Regions from separate parts of the Homo sapiens genome. Here region 2 is linked to region 1. The links come from fine-mapping of genetic effects on gene expression. A gene starts in region 1. The other region holds a variant in brackets. All regions are shown on one strand. Distances are between the middles of the regions.

The links. PIP is the estimated chance that this variant, and not a neighbour inherited with it, causes the effect.
Region 2: its variant is fine-mapped to the expression of PDE6B-AS1 in whole blood (TOPMed, PIP above 0.99).

The regions. Positions count from the first base shown.
Region 1 is chr4:650,754-658,753 of GRCh38, forward strand. PDE6B-AS1 (PDE6B antisense RNA 1) reads right to left here and starts at 4,447. Exons shown (of 4, transcript NR_183811.1): 1 at 4,329-4,447; 2 at 3,312-3,460; 3 at 3,005-3,218; 4 at 2,152-2,930. It overlaps PDE6B (phosphodiesterase 6B), which reads left to right. Exons shown (of 22, transcript NM_000283.4): 4 at 3,099-3,239; 5 at 3,327-3,401; 6 at 4,071-4,135; 7 at 5,187-5,253; 8 at 5,492-5,539; 9 at 6,121-6,270; 10 at 6,598-6,741. RefSeq lists an enhancer at 1-774.
Region 2 is chr4:676,476-689,120 of GRCh38, forward strand. MYL5 (myosin light chain 5) reads left to right here. Exons shown (of 9, transcript NM_002477.2): 3 at 1,447-1,554; 4 at 2,183-2,290; 5 at 2,483-2,558; 6 at 3,439-3,543; 7 at 4,034-4,112; 8 at 4,617-4,665; 9 at 5,418-5,553. The coding sequence starts at 1,552. The coding sequence ends at 5,519. It overlaps SLC49A3 (solute carrier family 49 member 3), which reads right to left. Exons shown (of 10, transcript NM_032219.4): 1 at 12,518-12,645; 2 at 10,057-10,215; 3 at 9,614-9,827; 4 at 9,360-9,436; 5 at 8,244-8,381; 6 at 8,008-8,124; 7 at 7,134-7,286; 8 at 6,735-6,892; 9 at 6,306-6,415; 10 at 5,354-5,901. The coding sequence ends at 5,483. It overlaps LOC124900643 (a long non-coding RNA gene), which reads left to right and starts at 10,210. Exons shown (of 2, transcript XR_007057985.1): 1 at 10,210-10,763; 2 at 10,997-11,544. RefSeq lists enhancers at 4,251-4,890, 7,220-7,629, 8,760-8,889, 10,094-11,042, 11,991-12,645 and silencers at 4,643-4,742, 4,963-5,162, 5,243-5,472, 12,463-12,632. The variant C/T (reference allele first, on the strand shown) is at 4,003.

The DNA.
Region 1 (8,000 bases):
GCCAGGGTCGGAGGTTGGAAGAGCCATTCCGGAGGGCAGGGGGTGTTGACGGGGGCACAGAGGAATGCCCTGAGCCCGAGCCGGCAGCGAAAATCCACCCGCCACACGCTGAAGACGCCTGCACTTCAGTCAGTTGCTGTGTGCACCAGCAGGCTTTTAACCGGAAAATTAAAAATGAAAACAAGGAGGACGGCAGAAGCCTCAGGGTGGGGCTGCTGGGCTGGGACCACCTTGAACTCAGTGCCTCCCCTCACTGAGGTGCCGATGTCAACGGCAGTGGGGCTGTCACAGGCAGGACGGGCTGAGGCGGCGATGTCAACGGCAGTGGGGCTGTCACAGGCGGGGCAGGGGCTGAGGTGGCGATGTCAACAGCAGTGGGGCCGTCACAGGCAGGACAGGGCTGAGGCGCCGATGTCAACAGCAGTGGGGCCGTCACAGGCGGGGCAGGGGCTGAGGCGGCGATGTCAACGGCAGTGGGGCCGTCACAGGCGGGGCAGGGGCTGAGGCGGCGATGTCAACAGCAGTGGGGCCGTCACAGGCGGGGCAGGGGCTGACCCGTGGGGTCAGACTGAATGGGGAGTGGGGGCCCCAGGGGTTGGTGGGTCCTCAGGGGGGGCCTCCTGGAAAGGACTTGAGGCCAGGCCTTGGGAGGAGGAGGGCCTGGGATGAGGGCCTGGAGGCAGAGGCCAGAGCCCGTGCGAAGGCGCTGAGTTCGGCAGGAGACAGACTGAGTGTGGGAGGGACGCAGAGGGCGCAGAGGGTGGGGCCGGGCCTCCACCTGCGGCTCTGGGTGAACCAGTCACGCGAGGAGAATGCACCTGGCGATTCCACACATCTACAGCGAGTCTCCTGAGCCGCAGGCGCCGGGGCTGTGGAGAGCCGTCTCCATTCAGCAGGCGCCAGGGCTATGGGGAGCCGTCTCCATTCAGCAGGCTCTGGAGCTATGAAGAGCCGTCTCCATTCAGCAGGCGCCGGGGCTATGGGGAGCCGTCTCCATTCAGCAGGTGCCGGGGCTGTGGAGAGTGCTAGGGCGGTCGCCATCTGCACCTGCTGTTTTCCCAAGTCCTGTTCTGGACCCACTAACTCCAGTGACTGAGCTGACTTCTTCACACGGGCATGGGGCCAAAGCTCCTGACCAGTGCAGGGACACGGGGGGTGGGACATACTCAGATAGGGGCTGGGAAGGCTGGGAGCTTCTGCTGAGGGTGGCACCAGCAGCAGCTCCATGACTGTGACTGCGGCCAGGGCGGCTCCACGACGGTGACTGGGGTCAGGGCAGGAGAGTGTGGAGGCCAGTGAGGAGGGTCCACACCCATCGGTGAGGCAGGAGTCAGGGTAGGCTGCAGACCCGGGCGGAGATTGCGAGGCAGGGGTCAGGGTCACTGGAGAAACATGGCTCAGGAAAGGCTTCAGGGAGAAAAAGGTGTTGGACGAGAGAGGCTGGTGCTCAGGGGCTGCAGGGGGGCCGGGCCTCAGCAGGGAGGGAGGGAGGGACTCTGGGAACAGCAGAGCCGGCACTGAGGATGCTGCCAGGGAAGGGCACTGACGTGCATGGACCTGGAGGATGCCACTGGCCAAAAGCTAGGATCTCACTCACATGTGGGATCCGAAAACCCTGAATTCATGGAAACAGAGAGTGGAAAGGGGGTTGCAGGAGGCCGGGGCAGGAAGAGAGATAGAGAAAGCAGAGACGTTGGTGAAAGGGTGCAAAGCGTTCGTTAGCTGGAGCTGTGGGCTTCAAGGTCAGCCGCGCTGTGTGGCGGCCACCACTGCCGTTAACCACAGTACACAGGGTGCTCGGTAAGTGCAGTTCTGCTTCCGAGGATTTATGATGTGGGAAAAGTTTTAAATTAAAAATAAGAATAAGAATGTAAAACAATACAGTAGAACAGCCGTTTTCATGGCCTTGCCTTGCACTGGGTGCTAAGTCATCGGAGATGATTTGAAGTCCTGGGGGTGCGTGTGCAACCTCTGTACAAACTCTAGGCCATTTCACATCCGGGACTTGAACATCCTCGGATTTTGTTATCAGAGCGGCGTCCTGGAACCAATTTCCCTGAGGATGCCGAGGGATGACTGTATTGTATACCAAATTGCTAGAAAATAGACTTGTAATGTTCTCACCACAAAAAAAACAAGTTGGTGAGGTGATGGATATGTTGATTAGCTTAATTGAATCTTTCTGCAACAAATACTTACATCAGAACATCACGCCAAACCCCATAAAACATAAACCCCATCAATACACACAATTATTCAACTGAAGATAAACTAAAATCAGTAAAATCAATGTACTGGGAAATAAAGCTACGAACATCTCACTGCCCTTGGCAACAGGAGAGCCTGGTCCTGTTCCCACCATGAGCTGAGTGCCAGGGGGTGGAACTTCAGAGGGCCTGGCAGGGAGAGAGCTGGGCTAGGACACCGCAGCGGAGGAGAGGGAGCTGGCACCATGCGGTAGAAGACCCAGCGGCCGCCGCGAGTGTGAGGAGGCAGGGCCTGGTGGGGCCTGGGTCTGGGCCTTGACCAAGGAGGCAGAGAAAGGTGGCCCAAGGAGGGCCCTGGGGTGAGTCTGAGCCTGGTGGCAGCGCTGACCCAGCAACCAGGGGCCTGTGCAGCGGGATGTCCTGAGTGGGGTCTGGCCAGGACCTCGTGGAGTGCGTCAGCAATGCTTCACTCTCAGACGCTTGGCGGAGGCCACAGGCGGCCTGACGTGCGGAAACCACGGCCCGATGTTCTCAAAGCCCTGCTCGCCGCAGGTGGTTCTGGAGCAGCCGGGCGGAGGAAGGGCTGGTCGGATGTTTGCCTGTCAAGCTCAAAGCGACAGATTCCACTTTCCACTCGTCCACTCCTGAGTGATCAGGGACACGACCGCAGCCTCGAGGCCTCACCGCCAGCCAGCTCCCGGGCCCCACAAGCTCAGATGAAACCTGGCCACGGAGCCACCAATCAGGGTCTGTGCCAGGCTCCACGGCTGGGCAGGTGGTCAGATCAGGGAGCGCACCTGTGTCAGGCTTGAGTTAAACCCCTGCTGCTGTGGTCAGACCGGCGTGAGGGTGGGAGTGGCCACAGGCCCACAGGTGTGCCCCTCCCTCCAGGTGCTGCTGTGGTCGGCCAACAAGGTGTTTGAGGAGCTGACGGACATCGAGAGGCAGTTCCACAAGGCCTTCTACACGGTGCGGGCCTACCTCAACTGCGAGCGGTACTCCGTGGGCCTCCTGGACATGACCAAGGAGAAGGTGAGGCTTCCGTGGCTCAGGGACCCCCTGCCTGGCCCGACCCAGGTCCCGCAGTGACCGCCCCACCCTCACCTCTTCTCTGCCCAGGAATTTTTTGACGTGTGGTCTGTGCTGATGGGAGAGTCCCAGCCGTACTCGGGCCCACGCACGCCTGATGGCCGGGTGAGTCTTAGGGGAGGGGCCCAGGGCCTGTCCACACGCCTCTGTTTCCCTGACTCCAACTCCAGGGCAGGAGAGGGAGGGATAGGGGTGGGGTTTAGGGAGGTGGGAACTGGCCGGTGGGACCCCGGGTGCCTGTCTGTGGTCTCCACCAGGCTCCCCTGCTGCTGCACTCCAGGGATGGGGTGTCCAGGGCTGGTCCCTGAATGAGGGCCGCCAGGCTGGTCGTGAAGACCCACGTCGGCTCTGATTGTGGGGGCTCCTGCTGCCCCATCTCCCCACGTGGGACCTCCTGTGCACGTGTAGGATGCGTGTGTGTGTGTGTGTGTGAGAGTACGGGCCCAGCTTGTGTGTGGGATTGTGCGGAACACAGACTGGGAAGACAGATGTAAACCGCGGCGTGTGATGCGTGTCCCGTGAGTATTGGGGACGGTCTGCATGTGTGTGCACCCTGAGCCTGTGCATGTGTGGACATGGGTGTGAGTGCACCCGCATTCGTAGAATACCTGCGCACGGCGGAGACATCTGTTCACGTGTGTACACATGCACGGTTACGTGTGTGGGGGTGTGCATGCGTGTGGCTGTGTGTAGCTGCATGTAGCTGTGTGTGTGTGTGTGAGCCCCTCAGAGCTTGGCCAGGCAGCCCCCCGACCAGTGTCTTCTGCTTCTCAGGAAATTGTCTTCTACAAAGTGATCGACTACGTCCTCCACGGCAAGGAGGAGATCAAGGTCATTCCGTAAGTGCAGGATTTTACCAGAAGCGTCCCCGGGGGAGGGACCGCCCCTCAGACCCCGGCTCAGCCCCCAGGGCCGTCCTCCCAGGGCTTCCCACGGTGCAGTCAGCAGCACCGGCCTGGCCTGGCCCCACCTGTGGTGCTCTGTGTGCCGTGGGGCATAGTGGAGTTGGGGGTGAGACAGAAGCCGACTCACTGTTCTGGGAGATGGTGAGGAGGACGTGGGCTGCTGAGGAGCCCGAGTCACTGTGGACATCCAGAGTGGACATACAGGGGACCAGGCAAGCTGTCCAGGCGGCCTCGTCAGCAACAATTGAGCATGAAGGCCCCAGGATTTGACCCTGGCACCACCAGCCCCACCCAGACAGTGGAGCCTCCAGCCAGGAGGCCGAGTCTTGGCCCCGTGGGGCTGGAAGAGGAGGGGAACTCCAGTCCGGAGGTCAGGGCAGGACTCCAGCCAAGGGAGGGGCAGCTGGTGGCCCAGTGGCCCTGTGATCCCATAAGCCTATTGGGACCCCATCCCCAGGCCCCAAGCAGGAACCAGGATCCAGGTGCCAGGCTTGAGCACAAGTCAGGGTCAGGGTGGCAGGGCAGGCACCAACGCTGAGTCCTAGAAAGCAGGCTGAAGCCATACGGCCTCCGGAGAGGGAGGGGTTCCCAAGAGGGAGGGGCCCCAGCACGGCAGCCTGGGGAGGAGGAAGAAGGCAGCACAGCCGTCCTCCAACCCACGCCCTGGCCTCCTCGCCTCCTGAACCCCCTGGCACTCAGAGAAGAGAGTAAATGCTGAGGATGGCACATGAGCCAGAGACCCCCAGACCCCTGCACACACGCCCAGTCCATCTGACCCCAGTACACCTACATCCAGCGCAGCCTGGCCCCTCTGACCCCTGCACACACACGTGCAGCCCAGACCAGCCCCTCTGACCCCTGCACACACACGTGCAGCCTAGACCAGCCCCTCTCACCCCTGCACACAGACATCCAGTCCCTCTGACTCCTGCACGCGCACATCCAGCCCGGCGTGGCCTATCTGACCCCTGCTCTCTGCCCACAGCACACCCTCAGCCGATCACTGGGCCCTGGCCAGCGGCCTTCCAAGCTACGTGGCAGAAAGCGGCTTTGTGAGTCCCGTGCTGTCTGGAGTCCCCACAGCCTTGCCCTCACTGGGTGCGGCGATGTGTGCTTCTCCTTGTCTCTGCCACGTCCCGCCCTCCCGGCCAGCTCCACGTGCCTCAGTGAAGCCCCCAGCTGCCCTGCTTTACCTACTTAAAAGCTCACCTCAGGGCCACAGAGGCCATTTTAGATCATAACAGACCTTCCGCTGTTTTGGATGAAATCGTTTTTCTGATGCTTTTTCAGATTTGTAACATCATGAATGCTTCCGCTGACGAAATGTTCAAATTTCAGGTATCTGTCTGTGCCTTGGTAGAAATTATACTTACTTACAAAAGAGGAGATTTTGATTCAGCGATGATGAAGTGAATTCGTTTTTGCCACTTAAAAAACAACTTCAGCCAGGCATGGTGGCTCACGCCTGTAATCCCAGCACTTTGGGAGGCTGAGGCGGGTGGATCACCTGGGGCTGTGACCACAGCCCCCACACACGCCCGCAAGGCCGTGACCGCGGCCCCCACACACCCCTGCGAGGCCGTGACCGCGGCCCCCACACACCCCTGCGAGGCCGTGACCGCGGCCCCCACACACCCCTGCGAGGCCGTGACCGCCGCCCCACACACATGCCCATGAAACCACTCCTGGTGGGAAAACGGCCTCTACCTCCTCCGGTGGGAAAATATCATGACACAAAAACCATGGACACAAACTCCAAATGCAGAGAGGGAGAGAGGGAATGCAGAGAGCAGAGACAGGAACACGAGCCCAGCCGTCACGGCTCTAGGGGAGAAGACATGAGGTCACTCTCCCCGGCCACACGCCCGGGCCAGGGCCAGCCTCAGGGCGGAGCTCAGCTCTGGACACCGCTCCCGCAGGAAGGGGCCCTGGACGACTCCGGGTGGCTCATCAAGAATGTGCTGTCCATGCCCATCGTCAACAAGAAGGAGGAGATTGTGGGAGTCGCCACATTTTACAACAGGAAAGACGGGAAGCCCTTTGACGAACAGGACGAGGTTCTCATGGAGGTAAGCACCTGGGCAGACGTGGTTCCGCCGGGGATGCCCTGCGAGGGGTGGGGCCTGTGCGGTGTGGGGGCCTCCCCGCCAAGCATTCGGCTGTGTGCGTGTGCTCATGTGTGTGCGGTATGCATGCGGCCAGGGAGAGGACGACAAAGGGCCCCCCCGGGAGCAGGAGCCTCTGCAGAGCACCCGGGAGACCCCACACAGAAGCACTGCGACACCATGGTGGCAGCCCCAGGACCTGCCCGCCGAGCCACGGGGCCTGGCACACAGGCACATGGGAGGGGGCGCGCCGGGAGCGCTGAGCGCCAGTGACACTGCCATCCCCTCCAGTCCCTGACACAGTTCCTGGGCTGGTCAGTGATGAACACCGACACCTACGACAAGATGAACAAGCTGGAGAACCGCAAGGACATCGCACAGGACATGGTCCTTTACCACGTGAAGTGCGACAGGGACGAGATCCAGCTCATCCTGGTGCGGCGGGGCAGGACGTCCAGGGGTCACCCAGGGGTCACGGCTGTGTGGCAGGGGCAGGTCGTCCAGGGGTCACCCAGGGGTCTCGGCTGTGTGGTGGGGGCAGGTCATCCAGGGGTCACCCAGGGGTCACGGCTGTGCGGTGGGGGCAGGTCGTCCAGGGGTCACCCAGGGGTCACGGCTGTGCGGTGGGGGCAGGTCGTCCAGGGGTCACCCAGGGGTCACAGCTGTGCGGCGGGGGCAGGGCATCCAGGGGTCACCCAGGGGTCATGGCTGTGCAGCAGAGGCAGGTCATCCAGGGCTCACCCAGGGGTCATGGCTGTGCGGCGGGGGCAGGTCGTCCAGGGGTCACCCAGGGGTCACGGCTGTGCGGCAGGGGCAGGTCGTCCAGGGGTCACCCAGGGGTCATGGCTGTGTGGCACAGGCAGGTCGTCCAGGGGTCCATTGAGGGGTCACAGGGGTCATGGCTGTGCAGCAGAGGCAGGTCATCCAGGGCTCACCCAGGGGTCATGGCTGTGCGGTGGGGGCAGGTCATCCAGGGGTCACGGCTGTGTGGTGGGGGCAGGTCGTCCAGGGGTCCATCCAGGGGTCACCCAGAGGTCATGGCTCTGCGGCGGGGGCAGGTCACCAGGGGTCACAGCTGTGCGGTGGGGACAGGTCACCAGGGGTCATGGCTGTATGGTGGGGGCAAGTCGCCAGGGGTCACGGCTGTGTGGCGGGGGCAGGTCACCCAGGGGTCATGGATCTGTGGCAGGGACAGGTCACCAGGGGTCACGGCTGTGCGGCGGGGGCAGGTCGTCCAGGGGTCACAGGTGTGCGGGGCAGGTCACCCAAGGGTCATGGCTGTGTGGTGGGGGCAGGTCACCCAGGGGTCACAGGTGTGCGGGGCAGGTCGTCCAGGGGTCACGGCTGTGTGGCAGGGGCAGGTCACCCAGGGGTCATGGCTGTGCGGTGGGGGCAGGTCACCCAGGGGTCACAGCTGTGTGGGGCAGGTCACCCAGGGGTCACGGCTCCCTCTGTGCAGTGGGCGGCCAGGTTACCCAGGGGTCACAGCTCTCTCTGTGTGGTGGGGACACGGCCCTGGGGCCAGAGCTGAGTACAGCCCTGGCATGCCCCCGAGGTCCCTCTGTCTGCACGGCCCTGGCATCCCTTCCCTGTGCTCAATCTCCCCAGCCAGGGGCCTTGCATGGCCAGAGCCCTCCTGGTCATCATGAGAGAGTCCCATCATTATACCTGAGGACTGCGTAAGGCAGTGCCCG
Region 2 (12,645 bases), 28 kb after region 1:
GGTCCCACCTGGCTCAGCACACCGCCCGCAGGGGCCTCTGCAGCTGTCAGGTCAGCTGTGGGTGCAGAAGCCGATACTCCCCCGGCTCAGGCTTGCTGCTATCTTTAGCACTGTGCTCAGACTCCAGTGGCCTGGGAACCCTCTGCAGGGGGCTCTGCAGCCCTTCTCACATTCCCGGTGGCCTCGGGGGGCCTCCCAACCATGCTTCCCCCCTCGGTGTGGTTCTCCCCACTCCTGCAGCCCAGCAGTGCCCCTTCAGGATCACACCCAGACCCCACTGGACTGGCAGCAGGGGATGCCCTGGCCCTTGCTCCCAGCCCCAGGGTTCCACATCTGGTCACCTGACACCTTGCAGTCGGCCCCAGGTCCCTCCTGGGCAGGTCATGCCTCCAGGGTCCTCAACCTCAGGAGTCAGTGCTTCATAGAGGCCGCTGGACCTGGGGATGGCACCAGGCAGCATCTCAGGGGACGCCAACTGTGACCATGTGTCCCTCAGGGGGTAGGACCTCTGCTCAAGAGACATGCAAGTGGCACCTGTCTTTTTAGCCTTGCAGACACGGTGGCGCCCCCAGGGATCCCACCTGCTGTTGTGGCTGCATATAGTCACTCCCACCACTGCCCCTGCAGCACCGAGGGGCAGGTGCCCTGGGTCCTGTTACCTACTGCGTCCCACGCAGACGCAGGCCTGGGGGGCTCCAAAAGCTTGTTCTCCACTCAGCCTGTAGGCCTCCTCCTTGATCCTGCTTGGCCTGCAGACCCTCCTCCCACCCCTTGAACCAGGGCATCTGGATGCTGACTCTGTGGTGGCCTCTGATGTCTGACACCACCAACAGACCCTGGGCCAGGTCCCTACCCCAGACTCTGTGCCTGAGGCCATGGTATAGTGGGGAAGACCAGGCTCAGGGCCCTAGAGTCCCCCTCCCAGCCCATCTGAGCAACGTGGCCATCTCCATGGCTCCTCCAACCCAGAAATGTCATCACCCATGGGCCAGGCAAGGAGCTCCCAGCCATGAGGTCAGACGGGGTGGTCCCAGGGCCAAGGCTATGGACTGACTTCTGTCACCAAGGCAGGGAGGGGCGTGGACACCCCTGACAGACAGAGTGTGCTTGGCAGAAGCCCGGTGACCAGCTGCAGTCACCCACAGCAGCGTTGTGCAAATCTAGAAAAAGTGCCCCTTCCTCTGGCTCCTGCAGTTCCAGGGTGCCCAGGCCCCCAGCCAAGAGCGTGTACAGGTGGCCCTGCTGACACACAGAATCCTTGGGAGAACAAAGCCTCCCCGGGGTTCGGGGACAGGTGGATGGGAGGTAGTCCTGGCCAGAGGTATCTGGGGAGGCTGGGGGCCTTGCGGGGTGAGGCAGGGCAAGGGTGTGAGTCACTGCCAGGCTGCCAAAGCTCACTCTGCAGCTGTCCAGTCCCCTGGGGTAGCCCCAAGCCTGTCCTTGTAGGGAGTGGCAGCCGGAGTCTGAACTGTCCTGGGGGACCAAGCAGGAGCTTAAGATGGGCAAGACCTGGGGCCCTGGGCAGACGCATCAAAGCAGGCAGAAGCAGGCATGGTGAGCAGGCCGCCGTGCATGCCTGGGGCAGGCGTGTGGGTGTGAGCTGTGCTGTGCATGTGTACATGCGCACAGACGAGCGTGGGCGTGTCCGTGCTTGCGTGTGAATGCAGGTGTGGGCGTGTGCTCTGCCTGCATATGTGTGTGCATGAGCGTGTGTATGTGCGTGTGTGTGACCTTGCGGGTGTGGGCTGTGCTGTGTTGTGGGAAGTACGTGCCTCACGTTGCTCTCCTGGTGAGAGTCCGGAGCAGGATGAGGGGGTTCCTGGCTTTCACAAAATCCCGGTACCCAGAACAAGCCCACCCAGAGTCCACTTGCCCCTCAAGCCTTCAGAGGCCAAGCTGGCTCCTGCTGGACGGCGATCCCTGACCACTGTGCTCTGTGGGCCTTCTGGAAGCCACTGTCCCTCCCCCAGTCCCTGTGCTGAAGCCAGACACCTGCAGCCGTCCTGCCCCCAACCCCAGCTACCCAGGCCTGAGGCTGGCATGCTCCTCAGCTGTCTGGCCCCCTCCAGCCCGAAGGGCTGAGGTCCACCCTTCATCTGAGTTAAGTCTCTCAAAACTCTGGGTGCCCTGGAGGGTTTCGTCAGCCAGCCCAGGACCCTCAGCCATGGTGCTCCCACCGCAGGCCAGCAGGAAGACCAAGAAGAAGGAAGGGGGTGCCCTCCGGGCCCAGAGAGCCTCATCCAATGTCTTCTCCAACTTTGAGCAGACTCAGATCCAGGAGTTCAAGGAGGTGAGACTTTCCTGCTTCACTGGGAGCCCCCACCCCCAGGAGCCTGTGCTGGGAAGACCCCATGTGGGCTGGCTCCAGGGCCAGCAGGAGTGGAAGCCTATCCTCAGTCAGGGGTGCTGAGGAACCGGGAGCAGGGGGCGGGGCAGAGCCCAGCCGGGTTGGCAGCACAGCAGCCCTGACCTTGGTCCCCAGGCATTCACACTCATGGATCAGAACCGAGATGGCTTCATTGACAAGGAGGACCTGAAGGACACCTATGCCTCCCTGGGTAGGTACCCAGGCAGAACGCCTCAGAGCCCTTGGAGGAGGCGAACACAGAGGTCCTCCAGCTCCAGACGCCGCGGCCCCTCCTCGAATGGAGCCAGGGCCCGCGCCTCAGAGGCCCACCAACGGCCCTGAAGCTGCAAGGTGATGGCCCTGGCCGCCCTTGGTTCCATCAGAGCTGGCAGAGAGCATCCCAGGGTGAGACAGGGTGGGTGGGACAGCCCAAGCCTGGAAACTCAGAGTGGGCTTTGAGGCAGCAGGCTCCAGGGAGGGGCTGACTCTCTGGTAGGACGCCACAGGCAGGCAGGCGGCTTGCCCCCAGGCAGGACCACAGAGCTGACAGAGGGCATGGAGACCCTGCCCGGCCAGACCACAGAGCTGACAGAGGGCGTGGAGACGCTGCCCAGCCTCTGCAGCACAGCCCGAGTGTGGTGGGGCACACTGCCCTCCCCAGCTTCAGTCCTCCCTGCGGCACATTCTGTTCCCAGCAGCTGCCTCTGACCTGAGGCAGGAGGGCAGGGGGCTTCGGTCCTGCCCTGGGAGCTGGGGAGTGATTTCTCCTTGGGGTGGGAGGGTCGCAAGTGACCCACCTTCCTCTCGGCCCTGCTTATGCCCAGAATTAAGAACAGCAGATCCCAGCACCTTCCCAGGCTCTGTGTCACCTCCCTCTCCCTCAGCACTTAGTCCTGGGGCTCACGGTTTGGGGTGAGGTGGACACAGCCAGCCAGATGCACCCACTGCCCCACGTGCCTGGGCCAAGCGTCTCCTTCCCGCTCCCTCCCCACCCTTCCCATCTGCCTGCCTGGCCCTGTGCTGGGGTCACCTGCTGGTGGCACAGGGCAGGCAACAAGCCCTGCCCTGTGATGCCCCCATGTCTGTAACAGGCAAGACCAACGTCAAGGACGACGAGCTGGACGCCATGCTCAAAGAGGCCTCGGGGCCCATCAACTTCACCATGTTTCTGAACCTGTTTGGGGAGAAGCTGAGCGGTGAGCACCGGTGGGGCAGGCCTGGCCCTCCTAGCTAATTCCTAACAGTTAGAGATCCGGACATTTCACGTAAAAATCTCTCTTTTCCAATCTCTGGAGAAGCCCTAGGGCCTGGCACTCTGGGAGCCAACAACTGTGGGGCCCCGTCAGCCACCCCAGAGCCATGTGCTCAGGCCCGCCCTCCTGCCCCACGTGCTGTGTGACCCGCCGTCGACACCTCTGTCCCTCACTCATGCAGCACTCACCCCCAGCTCCAGGCCTGGGCTGACCCTGGGCACCCCAAAACTCACTACACCCCAGGGCAGGAGTGCCCGACAAGGCCTCCTTGGGGCTCAGGAAAGGAGAAGGCCTTCAGGCAGAGGCCACCTTGTGGGCAGAGGCTTGGAGTCTCCCCCTGCTTGGGGCAGGGGTCTCCCCTCCTGCCATCTGCCCTTGGCAGCCACGGGACTGCCACCCTGA[C/T]GGCCCTGGGCTGAAGGTGCCTTTGTGGCAGGTACCGACGCCGAGGAGACCATTCTTAACGCCTTCAAGATGCTGGACCCGGACGGGAAAGGGAAAATCAACAAGGAGTAGTGAGTGCCCGGGCGGCCAGGGCGGCCCGGCTTCCGGGGAACCCCAGTGATCTCATCCTGTCCCAAAAGGGACAGTCAGCCACCAGATGCCACGCCCACCTCCCCACCTCTGACCAGCTTCAGGGCCATGAGGAGCGAACCCAGGATCCCAGCTGAGTGGGAGGCCAGCCCTGCTCACACAGGGACCAGCGCCTGTGCCCGGTGGGGGTGGGGCGGCTTCCCCTCAGCCCACTCCTCCATCTTCAGCTCCTGCTAGGCGCCGGGGAAAGTACCAGGCGCTGGCCTGTAACCTCCTTCCGGCTCTGTCCCCATCAGCGGCTCCCCCAGAAGTGATGGCCCCTGAGTGTGTGTTGGGAAGGGACCTGCCCCAGGGCCACACTCCAGCGGGAAGGGCGGGAGTGCAGTGAGCGAGTACAACCTGGGGCCCCTGGAGCACCTGAGCCCCACCGAGAAGGCTCCTGCACCCCCGCATCAGCCCGCGCTGACCCCTTTCCTCGTCCTCAGCATCAAGCGTCTGCTGATGTCCCAGGCTGACAAGATGACGGCGGAAGAGGTCTGGCCCGCGGCTTCCCTGCCAAGCCCACGAGGGGAGGGCGGGGCTCCCGGGGTCAGCTGGGTGGAGGGGGACGCGGAGCCCGAGGAGCAGCGCCGCGGTTAGGACCCAGGACAGAACAGGCCCCCGGGGGGCTCCCGAAGTGCCCGTCTGAGGGACGGAACTGGCTCAGAGGGATCAGGTCAGCGGTTGGAGACCCCTCCCCTCCGTTAGATCAGCGGCTGGAGACCCCTCCGCGGCCTGAGCGTCTGTCCCAGCCGGAGGGGCGGGGCTCACAGCTGTGCGGTCCGGAGCCGCCCCCCACCCCCGACGCGCCGCTCCCAGCCCCAGCGGGCGAGACTAATGCCGGGCCACCCCTCAGGACCCCCGCACCTCCCCCAGACCCCACACGGTCCTCCCCGACGCTGCTGAAGGGCCGAGCCCGACACGTGCGCCCAGACTGTGGCTGCAGCCGCCGCCGCCCCGCCCCCTCCAGCGCCGCCCCGCCCCCTCCAGCGCCGCCCCGCCCCCTCCAGCGCCGCCCCGCCCCCTCCAGCGCCGCCCCGCCCCCTCCAGCGCCGCCCCGCCCCCTCCAGCGCCGCCCCGCCCCCTCCAGCGCCGCCCCGCCCCCTCCAGCGCCGCCCTCACCCCGCACCCGGGCCCCTCCCCGCTCCCCCTCCCGCGGCGCAGAAACCACACCCGGGGCCGCTGCAGGTGCGCGCTTGTAATTCGCTCCCGGAGCCCGCAAGGAGCCCTTTCGCCCCCGCCCGCAGGTGGACCAGATGTTCCAGTTCGCCTCCATCGATGTGGCGGGCAACCTGGACTACAAGGCGCTCAGCTACGTGATCACCCACGGGGAGGAGAAGGAGGAGTGAGACCCAGCCGGGTCAATAAACCTGGACGCTTGGACCCTGCCTGCGAGTCTGCCGGGGCGGGAGGGCGCGTCGGTGGCTGCTGGGCCTTGCGCACGGGGAGTCGCTCGGTGGCAGGCTGGGTGGGGGCTCCCGGGCCCTCTGGGGTCCTCTAGCGAGGCCCCCCTCGCCGTGCACTCCGGAGTCGCCGTGCTGGGCCCCAGGACCCCAGCCCTTCCTGCTCCCCCTCGGTCCACACCCGGCCCTGAGTCTGCGCCGCCCACGGCGTTACGGGTGGAGGGGGGCTCCCCAGACTCGGCCTGCAGGCGCCGGTATGGGGTGTGGAAGAAGACCGCCAGGATGCAGCTGAAGAAGGTGCACAGGCCGGCCATCAGCAGCAGAGACACTGGGGACACATAGCACAGCTGTCCCCACAGCCAAGCCCAGGGGCCACAGATGGGCAGAGCCCAATGCTGGCCTATGGTGACCCCACTACCCTTGACCACAGAGTGACCCCAGACGGAGAGCCCACTCGCAGCTCTTGACAGCCCTGAGGGGGTGTTTGCAGACCCAGGTCCTGAGAGAGGTCACTAGCATGGGGTCTGGGATATGGGTGTGCCAGCCCCATCTCTGATCTCGGCCACACCTGTCCTGGCTCACCTGTCCTATTGCCCGGGGACTCCCTGCGTGGTGCTCACCTGTCCTGCTGTTTAGGGCTCCCCACGTAGGGTTCACCTGTCCCGCTCCCAGGGAATCTTCACATGGGGCTCACCTGTCCTGTTCCCTGGGGACTCCCCATGTGAGGCTCACCTGTCCAGTCAAGTGGATCCTCCCCCTGCTGGCAGGTGGACAAGGACGGCTCCGAGCGTCGCACAGTCAGTGCCGTCATTGCCAGCATGATGAGTATTCCCTCGGCCTGCCTGGACACACGTGGCCCTCAGCCCCCGCTGCACTGCCCACCCCCTCGGAGCCAGGTGCCACCTTGGGAAATGTTGACATCGGTGCTGTCCCTTGTGCCACCACCCTCCTGAAGGCAGCACGCAGCCTCGGTCATGGGCCCTATCAGCCGGCCCGGCCTGCACACAGCAGGTGCTCAGAACCTGCTCGGCCCTTGCCAGAGCAGGCAGGTTCCCCACCTCCCCGAAAAGGGGCCTGGACCACATGGTGCAACCCCAGGGGTGTAGGGGTGGAGCAAGGGGAGTATCTCTGGGGTTGCAGCAGGGGCAGATGGACACTCACCCCAGCACAAAGATCATGCCTGTGGCAGCCCCCTCCCCCACGGGGAAGGAACACTCGACCGCCAACTCCATGGCCACGGGGCCCACCGAGAAGCCAAACAGCCCGAGCAGCGAGCAGGTGGCAGCCAGGGCAAGGGTCTGTCCCTGCAGCTGGGACACCTGGGAGCAGCGGAACGGCAGGCAGACAGGTGGAGGGGGTGGCAGTCAGAACTGGACCTGGCTTCACGGGACATGGGACACGGGGCAGGAGAACCCATCCCACCCCGGGGCCACCCTGGCTGGCAGAGGCTGGGCATGAGACAGTCCAGACCTCTGTTCCAGCCAAGCCGCCAACCGCCCTCTCCGGGCCTCACCACCCACCCACCCCCACAGGGCAGTCTTGGCTTGAGGAGACCCTCACCAGGGCAAAGGGCACGCAGGCCAGAGAGAACAGGCACAGGCCAATCTTGGTGGCCTCAGTGAAGTGCTTGGTCCGGTCCACATAGGGGCCGAGAGCCAGTGCCCCCAGGATCCCAAACGTGATGAAGAGAGCGCCACAGAGGCCGGAAAACCCCTGGAGGAGGCGAGAAGAGGCCAGGGCCCCAAGAGGCCACCATTATCCTAGGTGCATGCCGTCAGGGCAGGGGGCTCAGTGTAGGGCCGTGTGCTGTGCCCAAGGCCCAGGCATAGCAACACAGCTTCCAGACGCACCGCTGGCTGCCTGCGGGGTAGGGTTTCCTGCCTTGTGTTTCCCACCCCACCCCAGAGCAAAGCAATCGCTAAAGGGAAGAGCCTGTCTCCACAGAGGCCCCACAGGGCCGTGGTGCCTGTGGCCCTGGCAAAGGTGGAAACATGCCCCCAATCCTACACTGAGCACTGATCCCAGAAGGCAGAGGGCAGAGGGCCAGCTCGGAGATATGCGAGCAGAGCAAGGCCCTCCCCGCTGCACGTCTGGATACCAGAAGGTGGCGCTGTCCTGCAGACCCACAGGGGCGGGGCCTTGCTGGGAAGGGGCACTGGGAGCCCTGGGGGCCCCACCTTCCCATCCACAGGGCACCGTCAGTCCCTCCGCTCCGTCCCACAGCTGCCCCACCCCACTGCAGCTGTGCCCACCACCTCCACTGCCTGTGGACATAATGTCACACAGGGCATCTCGGGAGGGCCCACAGCACAGAAGGGTGTCAATGTGGCCCCCGCCAGGGTCGGACACTGGGCACCCTGGAGGCGGCGGTGACTCCATGGCCATATGGGGCGGATGACAGAGGCAGGGTCCCCAGGGGTGGGGCCAGGCTCACACTGGAGTGGCCGCTTGCACAGAGGATCTGCTCCAGGAGGGCTGAGAAGCTGGCAGAGATCCCGATCATTCCCCCCAAGCACACAGCCAGGATGACATAGGCCTTGTTCCACATGAGCTGCTGGGAAAGAGCGTCTCAGCCCCGGAGCCCGGGGGCCCTTCCCAAACCCATCGCCTCCTCAGCCTCTTGCCCCCACCCCCAAATCCACCCTACCCCGGGGATCCCACGGCACTGACCAGCTTGAGCCCATCCAGGAACTTCTCTGAGGTGGAGCTGGCAGCCCCGGCAGAGGGCGGGGTGGGGGGCACACTCTCCCACAGGCAGATGGTGGACAGCAGGCAGACGACGCCAGCAGGGATGGTATAGACACCGAGCTGGGGAGGGGTGTGTGTGCACAAGGAGACCACGCAGACTGGCACCCACACACGCCGCAGCCCTGCCTGTCCCAGGCGCCACCTCCCAGCTCCTCCTGCCCCACCACCGGCTGCCTCCCAACCTCTGGTCTGCAGCTGCCCTTTGCGAGGCCCAGGCTGGGAGGGGCCTGCTCCAGGGGCTCATGGGGACCCCTGGCTGTCAACGCATCCCTCACCAGTGACACCCTCCTGGCTGATGTTAGCCCAGCACCCCCAGGCTCCAGACTTACATCTCACTGCCAGCTGCACAGCCCATGATAGGGCTCAACACACAGACACAGGTGGGTGCAGAGGCACACGTGCATACAGACTCACGCTCAGTACATACCCCCAAGCACAAACACACCACCCGCACCTGATACACATGCACGAGCACACACAGGTACACACCACACATGTGCACAGACACACAGACACATATGCACACATCACACAATACACATGGGCACAGGAACAGAGACACGCACCGCACACACCACACACACTCAATACACACAGGCAGGCATAGAAACATCACACACTGGCCGGGCGCGGTGGCTCACGCCTGTCATCCTAGCACTTTGGGAAGCCGAGGCAGACGGATCATGAGGTCAGGAGTTCGAGACCAGCCTGGCCAACATGGTGAAACCCCAACTCTACCAAAAATACAAAAAAAAAAAAATTAGCCAAGCATGGTGGCGCACGCCTGTAGTCCCAGCTACTCGGGAAGATGAGGCAGGGGAATTGCTTAAACCCAGTAGGCGGAGGTTGCAGTGAGCCGAGATCGCGCCACTGCAATTCAGCCTGAGCGACAGGCTGAGACTCCTTCTCGGGTGGCGGGGCGGGGGACGGGAATCACACACGGGCACAGGAACACGGACACACTTGGGATCAGGAACACACAGACGTGCATGCGCACACACCACACAGACCAGGCACGGGCGTCTCATGACCCCTCACCATTAACGGAATGTCCTCACCCTTCTTGACCAGCACAGGGGACAGCACATTGGCCACAAGGACGCCCAGAGGGTTCGCTGGGTGGGCGGATGCACAAAGTGTCAGCTCGGCTGTGGCCTGGCTTCATCGCCAGCCCACAGGCAGAACCTTCCGGGCCCCAGCTCCTCCACCCTGGCCAGAGAGCCTGGGGAGCCGAGCGTCTGTGTGGACCCTGAGGTGAGCCCAGGCAGGCGGCCTCCCTCCCCGGAACTCACACATGGTGGCGAGCATGTTGGCCGTGGCTCGCTGGTGCTCTGGGAACCACAAGGCAGCCAGCTTGGCTGGAGAGAAGATGACCAGGCTCTGGGCAAGGGCACAGAGGCTCTGGCCACCCATGAGGAAGGCAAATGGGTTTTGGGTCCCAACAACCATGCAGGGCACCATGCGTAGCACACTCCCGGCAAAGTTCAGCCACGCACCCAGGATGGTCTGCGAGGAGGGGGTCGGGGACCGGGTCAGGAACGCTGCCACCAGCCCAAGTGCCTGCCCCGTCCCCCGAGCACCTGGACCTCCCACTGCCGCCACCTCGACGGCTCTGCCGGGGTCCCCAGCTGTTGGGACTGGTGGGCCCCGGTCTGGGGAGGCCTTGACTCTCCTACCCAAATGCGGGGGCCCCTGCACTGTCCCGGAGCGGGCCATGGTGTGGGGTCTGACTCACCGCCGCACGGAGCCCGACGGAGTCCAGGATCCAGATGGCCGCCACGCCAAATGGGGTGGATACCACGAGGTAGACCAGTGACAGCCAGTTGATCTGCTCCATGGACAGGACCAAGTCCTCAGCAATGACGTCAGCCACAGGTGCAAAGCTGAGCCACAGCTGCAGGGGTCAGGCGGGAGTCAGCGCAGGGCCACAGACCCCGGACCTACCTGCTGTGGCCCCAGCCAGCCCGAGGGGGTCAGAGTGCCAGCAGCCCCGTGAGGCCGAGGGGACACAGCGAGCTGGACACGGGGCCTTCCTGCCCAAGGAGAGCGCCACCCTGCCTCCCCCGAGGGCGGGCACCCAGCGCAGGGTCAGAGAGCATGCCCTGACCGGGGACCAGCCTGGGGGGCAGACACTGAGGCCAAGGACCTGGCCAGAGCCCACAGGACCACGAGCCCTGCCCAGACCAGACCTGGCGCTCCAAGGCAGGGAAAGGTGGGCGTGACGGGGTCTCAGCTAGAACCTCTGGGACTGCAGGCCAGCCCCACCCAAGGCCAGCCTGACCTTCCCTCCTGCAGGGCCCAGGTGTTTGGGCAGAATGTTGCCAGAGCGGGCACCATTCCCCAGCCACAGGCATTATCAAGTACTAGAGCTCTTCACCCCACGGACGTCCAGCACACAGCACAAGTGCACGCTGCGGCCGAGGGGAAGGCCTCCTAGGAGAGGTGAGACTGGCTCATCCCTGAGGGAGGCCAAAGTGGAGCGGGTCACCGGGGCTCACTCCGGGAGGCAGGAGGCCGTGTCACTCAAGGTCAACTTCCATGAGTCGACTGAGCTCCAGGCCACACCCTCGGACACAGCAGCCAGACCCAGGCTCCGCCCGGACAAGGTCTGACTCAGCCCACGGGACAGGACAGGGAGCTTGGGCAACAGCCGCCCTGTCTTCCTTTTTCTGCAGGACGGGGCCAGGCACAGAACGAGCTCCCCAGGCCCAGCTGGTGCCTGCCTGGCCGAGCCCGGGAGAGAAAGCCCACCCTGCGGAGCCGAGCCCGCCGCTCCAGCCTCAGCCCTGTCCTGGTTCCTCGGGGGCCTGAGTGGGGCCCACAGCTGACTCACTGAGAAGAGATGCGTCTGAAGCGTGCGGGGCAACGTGGGAGGACGATCTGTCTGACTCCCTTCCTCATCTCCCAGCCTCGACCCTGCCTGCGCTCGCCCCCTTGGGTCCTTTGAGTCTCATCCAGAGCACTGGGCTGCCTTCCGGGGTGGGTGTTGACCCAAGCTCTGCTCCGCCTGGCCCTCATGCTGCTGGTTGGAACCCGGGATCCCTGGTCACTGGCTGCAGATGAGTAACCTCCAGCCTCAAGGGCACTTGGCTGGAGTGAACATGGTGCTTACGGCTCACTGTGGTGACCCAGGCAGAGACCATGACGACTCTTGGTGTCAGGGTGAGATTTCTGTGTGCTCCATGATGACTCGTGGATATTAATAAAACAGTGAAGAACTGCAGCAGGAGGCCCTTGACTGTCCAAGGAACGCCCCACACCTACGACACCCACTGACTCTTGGACCATGAAACCAGCCCTGCACCCTCAGACACTCCACCCAAAGCCAGTTATGGCTTCCCCAGTGCCTGGACATGGTGGGCCAGGACGCCAAGCCACAGCAGTGAGTTACGGCTCGTGCCAGCATTGTGGGCAGCAGGCAGCCCCTGGGCCCATCCAGCAGATCCCGGGCCTGTCTCGGCCAGAGGCTGGCCCTCCATACCCAGCCAGCAAAGGAGGAGGGGAGAGGCCCCGGGGTCCACCTGGAAGAGCCCTGACCCAGGCCTGAGAGTGACTCCTGCCCCTGCCCCCGAGCTTCCTGACCATCCCCGTGACCTGGCGCCTCCCTGAGCTGTGGGTCCTGCTGCCAACTCTAGCTGTTCATTGCACGTTGGCCAGATACTGCCTGACCAGTTCCTGAGGCTCCGGGGGATGGCTGATGAGGGCACACAGGGCGGGAAAGGCTGCAGCGTGCAACACCTGAAGGGGGTGGGGGCAGGACGGAACCCAGCCCAGCCCAGGAGCCGCCCCTCACTCAGAGTCAGGTGGAGGGGAGGGCGGCTCCAAGCGCGCCTCTGCTGTGTGCCTGCTGTCCTGGGGCTGGGAGGCGTGGAAGGAGAGAGGGCCAACGCAGGGCCACCTGTATGTGACTGGCTGGGGAAGAGGGACCCAGGCTGGAGCCACTGAAGGCTGGGAAGGGCTGGGACTCCGTGACTGGCAGATCCCCCGGGGCACCCAGCCCTGCTCTGTGCCCTGGGCCCAGCCACCTCCAGGACAGACAGTGCCCCCAGTGCCCGCAATCCCTAGCCACCTCCAGAAGGCACCCCCCGCCCCCAGCCAGCACCTGGCACCTCGGGCTGTGGCCACAGGAAAACAAAACCCGGCTGGTCCGAGGGACTGAGGGTCCCGGAGCCACCTGTCCCCGCCCCTGCCCCTACCGTGGCGTTGGAGCAGTTGAGCAGGCTGATCGCGAGCAGGAACACCCAGCGGCGCGCGTAGGTGCGGTGGCCCCGCTGCGCGCACAGGGCCCGGGGCTCGGCCAACCCCGTCTCGGCCTCCGTCGGCC